2 linked regions of the Homo sapiens genome follow. The protein of the gene in region 2 interacts with the protein of the main gene of each other region in a pairwise test. Each region holds a gene or a part of one and is shown on either strand. Other genes may lie near its edges.

Evidence for each region. The genes of interacting proteins can lie anywhere in the genome.
Region 1: the proteins of TCP11X2 (region 2) and SFT2D2 interact in a two-hybrid assay, tested with the Homo sapiens proteins (one large-scale study listed by BioGRID).

Annotation. Positions count from the first base shown.
Region 1 is NC_000001.11:168,250,004-168,253,722, reverse strand, and holds the end of SFT2D2 (vesicle transport protein SFT2B), read right to left. Parts: 3' UTR 702-3,719; downstream 1-701. UniProt on the Homo sapiens protein: May be involved in fusion of retrograde transport vesicles derived from an endocytic compartment with the Golgi complex.
Region 2 is NC_000023.11:102,465,236-102,468,970, forward strand, and holds part of TCP11X2 (T-complex protein 11-like X-linked protein 2), read right to left. Parts: intron 335-3,735; coding exon 214-334; intron 1-213.

The sequences.
Region 1 (3,719 bases), on a different chromosome or scaffold from region 2:
AGGGAAACATCATGAACAACTTTACACCAATTAGACAACCTACTTTACACAAAATAACTAAACCAGCTAGGTGTGTAGGAATATACCAAAATAGGCCAGGCACAGTGGCTCAGGTCTATAATCCCAGCACTTTGGGAAGCTGAGGCAGGTGGATCACCTGAGGTCAGGAGTTCAGGACCAGCCTGGCCAACATGGTGAAACCTCGTCTCTACTAAAAATACAAAAATTAGCTGGGTGTGGTGCGCTACTGTAATCCCAGCTACTTCGGAGGCTGAGGCACAAGAATCACTTGAACCTGGGAGGCCGAGGTTGCAGTGAGCCAAGAACACACCACTGCATTCCAGCCTGGGCAGCAGAGTGAGACTCCATCTCAAAAATATATATATTTATTTGTTTGTATGTATGTATGTATGTATGTATGTGTGTGTGTATTTTTTTTCCAAAATAAACACTTAAGGAAATGTCTTACTTTTTAAAAACCTTCCAAACTGTCCCTAGACCCATGTGAAACCCTAAGTCATTTAAAAGAGAGGACTACATGTCAGGTTAGGTCCCCCAAAACATCTTTAAGTGCCTATAATGTGTGCTACACACTGAGAATTCAAATTAAAGATACGGTTTTTTCTTACAGTTCTACAGTCTTCCTTTGGCTTAAAGACTCCTGGAAATACAGACATGAGTAAGAGACAACACTAGATTTATTAAAGATCATAATGCTATCATTTATTGAAGAAAGAAAGCAAAAAAAACTAACAATTGTGATGGGGGAGGAGAGACAGCTTGGCAACATTCCTTTTAAAGTTAAGTTAGCATAAAGAAAACAATATTTAGTAAATGAAATAGATTTTCAAGGTAGGAAAAGTAGTACTCAAGAATGTATTTTTGGATACAAAAATTCAGTTACACAATCAGTAGCATTCAAAATTAGTTATGAGTATTTATACAATTACAAAAATGGATTCATGTTTTAACAACGTATTTTAAAAGCTCAAACATTTTAAAACAGGCACAATATTCTAAAGGCATATGCATTCACCATGGGCTTTTGAATGTCCTCACTCCCAACTTCACAATCAAAATCTACAGAAGCGGCAAAAGATCAGAGTTCAGAGGGCTATTTTTTTTTTCCCTTTCCTTACTTAAGGTTGCAAACACATTGACAGAGGCAAAATAAACACGTTTCATAGCAGAAAGACCAAAAAATTGAATGTAAACCATAGCTCTCCCTTGGGAGATTACACAAATACAAGGTTCATCTGTACTTAGAACAAGGCTCATAACTTCTTGTAGCATGGACATTCAACAGGCACAGAGCAACAACATTCACCCAAATACCAGCTGCAATTTGTCCTTTAAGGATGCCTCACAAGGATATTATGTCCAGGTAGCTAGTCCATTTATATCGGGGACCAGTTGTCCTTTTGTTGTTTGTGGCTGTTTATTAAATGTAGTGGCACAACTTTGTTGTGAATATGTACCATCATTTGCTACAATCTAGACAGATCATCCTGTCTACAAAAAATCATTTTCTACATTTCTAAGACCATTATCAGTTTATCTGCTCCTGCTAGAAAAGGACATACTTTTTGTCAATTTACATTAACAAAGGCTCTGCTACTCCCCATTTACTCGCTGCAATGAAAACTGGTAAGCCAAGGGTAAAGCTTAAGTATCAGGGACTATGAATTTAGGGTAGAAGTGAAAATAACCAAAGTGGAACTAAATCCCCTATTCTTGAGTGCAACTGAGATCAAGTAAACTTCGCTGGACTTTCTTCTTAACTATAAAACTATTAACCAGAAGGTAAAGTCACACAATTTTACCTCCCAACAAACTTTTAAAATAAAAATTTCCAAAAAATTTAGATGTCTAGGTTTTGTTATATCTTACCAAGAGTTACACAGACATAAATTTGTATTTAACTTCAGTTAAACATCTATTCACTTTTTAAAAATGCTGTCTGCAAATAAACTACTGGACATCTTAAGCTTACTAAAAAAAACTTAAGATTTTTAAATTAAAAAAAAAAAACTAGGACAAAAATCTAGCAAATGGTTTCACGTACCTTTAAACACTGATTCTTAAAAATTTATATGCTGAAAATGAGGTTTGAGAATACGTATTTTAAACCATTTATAATCCTACCGTCGACTCTAGTCAGAAGTTATCTGAGCAAAGAGAAAATAAAGCCTGGCGTAGACAGTCCCATAGAAAATAGAATCCATAGCCACTGGGCTGCCCTTCAATTTCCCAATTCATTCCACTAAGTCTCATGATGCAAATCTGTCACTTTCATAGAGCTATCAAAAACAGAAGCCAAGCCAGATCCTCCACACTTTAAGATATGGTTCCTTATTATCTATTTTAACAGAAGTATCAAAAAGTGATTTTTTTTTTTATTTATTTTTGAGACAGAGTCTCACTCTGTTGCTCAGGCTGGAGTGCAGGGGTGCGATCTCGGCTCACTGAACTTCCACCTCCTGGGTTCAAGCAATTCTTGTGCCTCAGCCTCCCTCCCAAGTAGCTGGGATTATAGGCGCACACCAGCTAGCCTGGCTGATTTTTTTGCTGTTGTATTTTTTGTAGAGATGGGGTTTTGCCATGTTGGCCAGGCTGGTCTTGAACTCCTGACCTCAAGCGATCCACCCACCTCAGCCTCCCAAAGTGCTCAGATTACAGGTGTGAGCCACTGCACCCAGCCAAAAGGTAATTTTATTTGGAATGCATTTCATGATTTTATTTCTTGCTCCCTGAGCCTGCAGTGATTAGGGTGGAAGGGAAGTGGCACTCAGGCAGATAATTCACAAAGTCACCACACAAGGGTGATAGATGATCCACCACTGAGATAATCAACCCAGTGAAAATGCTACACTGGGGACCATGTTTTGCCCTTCCCAGACAAGACATCTTGAGCTAGGATCTGAGCTACGGCTATGCAGAGGAGCAGAACTGAAGGCTCCGTTTGAGCCCTTTCTGCAAAAGGGGATGCATTTCAGATAATGAGACAAGAGACGGGAGTGAGTTAGTACACAGCACGCCCAATACCCAACAAGCAGCCTCAGAGAGACTGGGAGAAGGGGGAGAGGGGACTGGAAGCCATCTCTTCTGTTCTGAAGGGCAGTGCTCCTCCCAAGACAGCACTCAGAGAGCCAACAGCCCAGGGCAGATCACGCCAGGACAGTGCTTCCATATGGCTGGCTGAGCACCATATTCCAATCTGCAAAAGAGTCACCTTATTGGTTCCCTTAACTTCCAAAATGCAGCAAGCCCTCCTTCACCCAGCAGTGAACGGAAGGGAAGGGAATGCAGGGCAGCAGGGAGACAGAGACCATCATTAACTACAGGTCTGAAACCCTAATTCTTTACTCACTCATCAGGTTGCTTTTAATCACTGCTGTTGCTTGGTAACAGGTTTCAGCAGATTTGAAATGGATTTCTTCCTCCCACAGTCTAACAAAAACAAGTAGGGAAACAACCAAAGAATAAGGCAACTTAAGGAAAAACGCAGGAAGACCCTGGGAGGCAGGGTCATGCAAAAGCTGCCAATGGTGTCCTGATGGGAGCTGTCTGAGCAAACTGGCCACAGGCCGTGAGTGAAAGCAAAGCAGAAGCCTTTCTACAAGACCCATCTCCTGCCAAGAACCCCTCCCTGACGCCTCCACTCGTGGGGTCTGGGATAGGCTCTTTACCTTCTCAGAGGATGGAGGCAATACCATTCA
Region 2 (3,735 bases):
ATTTGTTTAATTGAGTTATATATTGTTATAGTCATCGCCCAATGGTCAAGTTTCATCTTATACAAATAAAATGGAAGCTGCCCCATCCTATCTATTTAAGTAGTAGGTCACGTTAAAAAAAGTATGCTACTTGATATATTAACAGCCATTGACGATCCAAGGTTCTGAGATGCCCAGGAACTTCCCATCCACGAATGGGAGTTGGTTACTCACCTCCTTAACATCTTTTAGAAGTTCAAGGGCACAAGTGAAGTCAGGAGGAGTACTCAATAGCTGTTCTTTCAGATGGTTCCAAAAAGCATTGTACATTGCCTCCGCAAACCTGCCTTCTACACTATAAGAAGGGTTAAATGAGCAGATTGCTCTTTTACCTAGAAAATTGATACAGGATCATAATTTCCCAAACAGCATTTAAAATTATGAAAGACCATTAACTTGACAGGCTAGGAGGACCTATGTTTAGACTTGAGAAGGGCTGAATAAACTGAAGGTAGTCTCAGATGGAAAAGCATTGGCTAAATTCTCTCAGAAGGGTACCTCAAGGTTCCAGAGACACTCTCTTCCTGCAGCAGGAAGAACCATAAACTAGGAGTTGAGACTCTGACTTCTAACCCTAGTTCTGCACCTAGCCTGGATGTGTGACTTAGTTTCCACTGCCATAGACTTAAAACTTTGAACCAGATGCTATTTTTCCTTCAGGCCTGAAATCTAGGAAAGGATTTTACCTCTTGATAATACCTGAAGGTCTTCTGAGACACTTTAAATTCAGCAAGCCCAAAACTGAACTCCTTATCTTCCTTCTTTAAATTTGTTCCTCATGTATACTTAGTTCTGTAACCAGAAATCTGAGACTTTTTCTCTTTAAAAAAATATAATAGTAGGCCGGGCGCGGTGGCTCACGCCTGTAATCCCAGCATTTTGGGAGGTCGATGCGGGCGGATCACGAGGTCAGGAGTTTGAGACCATCCTGGCCAACATGGTGAAACCCCGTCTCTACTAAAAACACAACAATTAGCTGGGCGTGGTGGCGGGTGCCTATAGTCCCAGCTACTCCGGAGGTTGAGGCAGGAGAATTGCTTAAACCCGGGAAGCAGAGTTTGCAGTGAGCCGAAATAGTGCCACTGCACTCCAGCCTGGTGACAGAGCGAGACTCGGTCTCAAAAAAAAAAAAAAAAAAAAAAAAAAAAATATATATATATATATATATGTATATACACACACACACATATATACACACACGTGTGTATATATACGTGTATGTATATAATAGTAATGTATGTTTTCTGTTTACAAAAATACAAGTGATTAAAAAATATATGAAACAAAAATTCAAAGTTTCTCCTCCAACACAACAATCTAACCTGTGAAAGTTCAACTATTATCTATCTGGTGTGTACTGTAGTCCTTCTTAATTCCTTTCCCCTCATGTCCTTTATCCACTCAGTCACCCAATTCCAGAGATTTTGCTTCCTAAATATCTCTGGAATCGGCCCCCACCCACTGTCATCTCTTTCCTGAACTATTGCTATAGTCTATTAAATGGCCACCTTACACCCACAAAACCTTACCCCAACAATGGTACATATTTTTGATAAAAATCAATGAGTTTTCTAAGATACAAATCTGATCATAATAGTATACTCATTTAAAGTTCTTCAGACGCTACCTATCTCTAGCAGTGTACGTGGCCTTTAAGTCCCTTCACGATCCTATTCTGCCACTTCTCCTACCTTAACCTTCTTTCTCCTCCTACATCCTGTGCTCTAACAATCACAGTCCACTTATAATTAATATATAATTGTCTTCCATCCCTCTATGGCTCTGAAATGACATTTCCTCTTCCAGGAGAGTCCCTTCTCCCCTAAACCACCTGAAAAGACTCAATTCAAGTGTTACCTTATTAGGAAAGTCTTCGCTGACCTTCCCCAGGTAGCTGAGCACTGCATAGAACTCCACACACTAGATATGAGATAACTTATCACTCTGCACAGTAGCTATTTGACTATCTTCCCTACAGAAGCTTTTTGATGGCAAAGACAGTGACTCACTCAACTATATGTCTTCAGCTTTCAACATTCTGCCTTCCACCTAATAAGTACTCAATAAATGTTTGTTGAATAAATGTCTTATTATGAGATTTCCCCTAAAAACCGATAACTGTGCTTAGTATAATTTTATAAGTCCAAAGGGAAAACTGTCAATTATCTGTAGATAATGGATAACCCCAAACTCTATTTCAACCTCTTATCCAGTATACATTTTGTATTACTACATTTGAAAAAGCCTGTTAATTTAAAAAACACAGTGAAATCCAAGCCCTAAATAATATTATTCCTCCTGCTTCATCTATCCACCCCCTGAGATCCCTAGCCACTTTAACAGACCTTCATTCTCTTAGCTTCACTTTTTTCTGCACCCCTACCAGGAGAAAAACAAATCTAACTCGGGCCGCAGGGACTATAAAGGCAATGAGGGAGATGCTACGAGACCTGTGTTTTGGTAAAAACTTCCTTCAGGTAACCCATCCTTGGCAACAGACAAAGGAAAATCTAAGAAGTATGAAGATCAAGAGAACCACTGACAAAGCAAGGGGCTTTACGTAACAGAATCCCAAAAGTGGCAAAATAACAGAAGCATTTAAGGTGGGAAATTAGAAATACCGTAAAATATAGATTCTGACAAAGAAATCAACCCATTTAACTCTTAATAAACACTAGAAGCATTCAATCCATAAATGCTGGATGATTCTTAATCATATATTGTTATATCAATATAATTAAGAGAAACCAATATAAAGCCTAATTGTAGAAGCACACTATTTATCGATGGGGTTCTAATCTTGATTCACAGAATCTTTATTACACTGATTATGAAGCAGAAGTGTCCCCTGAAATTTCCTACTCCTGAAGAGTGAACAAAACCACTATTAGAAAATCTGCTCATCTCTGCCTGTTTAATCTGCAGATAATTAAAAGTTGAACGGCTAGGAGTTACCTCTTCCAAGTCTGTCTGAAAAGATCTGAAAATCACTCTACGTTTCATTATTAACTAAGATCCTGAAATGAACATTTTGACAATACAGAATGAATACCCCTTTTCCAAGATGTTTGGGACGGGAGTATTTTGGATTACGGATTATTATTGTTATTATTATTATTTGAGACAGGGTCTCACTCTGTCGCCCAGACTGGAGTGCAGTGGCGTGTTCGCGATCTCAGTTCACTGCAACCTCTGCTTCCCAGGCTCAAGGGATCCTCCCACCTCAGCCTCCTGAGTAGCTGGGACTACAGGCATGCACCACCATGCCCGGCTAATTTTTGTATTTTTTGCATAGACAAGGTTTCGCCATGTTGCCCAGGCTGGCCTTGACTTCCTGGACTCAAGCAATCCACCTGCCTCGGCCTCCCAAAGTGTTGGAACTTAACAGTCGTGAGACACTGCGCCTAGCCAGATTACGGATTTCTTGGATTTTGGAATATTTGCAGCATACTTGTATACCGCAATGAGCATTTCCTTTGAGCATCATGTTGGCGCTCAAAATGTTTTGGATTTTGGAGCATCGTGGATTTCCGATTTGGGATGTTCAACCTGTAACTGCATTGGTTTATTACCTGTTTAAATATAATTTGCTGCTTTGACACTTTTAAAGTAATACTTACACTAATTTGTCGGTACTATATAAGACACACTCAACCATTAAATTTATTAATAAGATGCTTCAAGTCTGACCAAAAG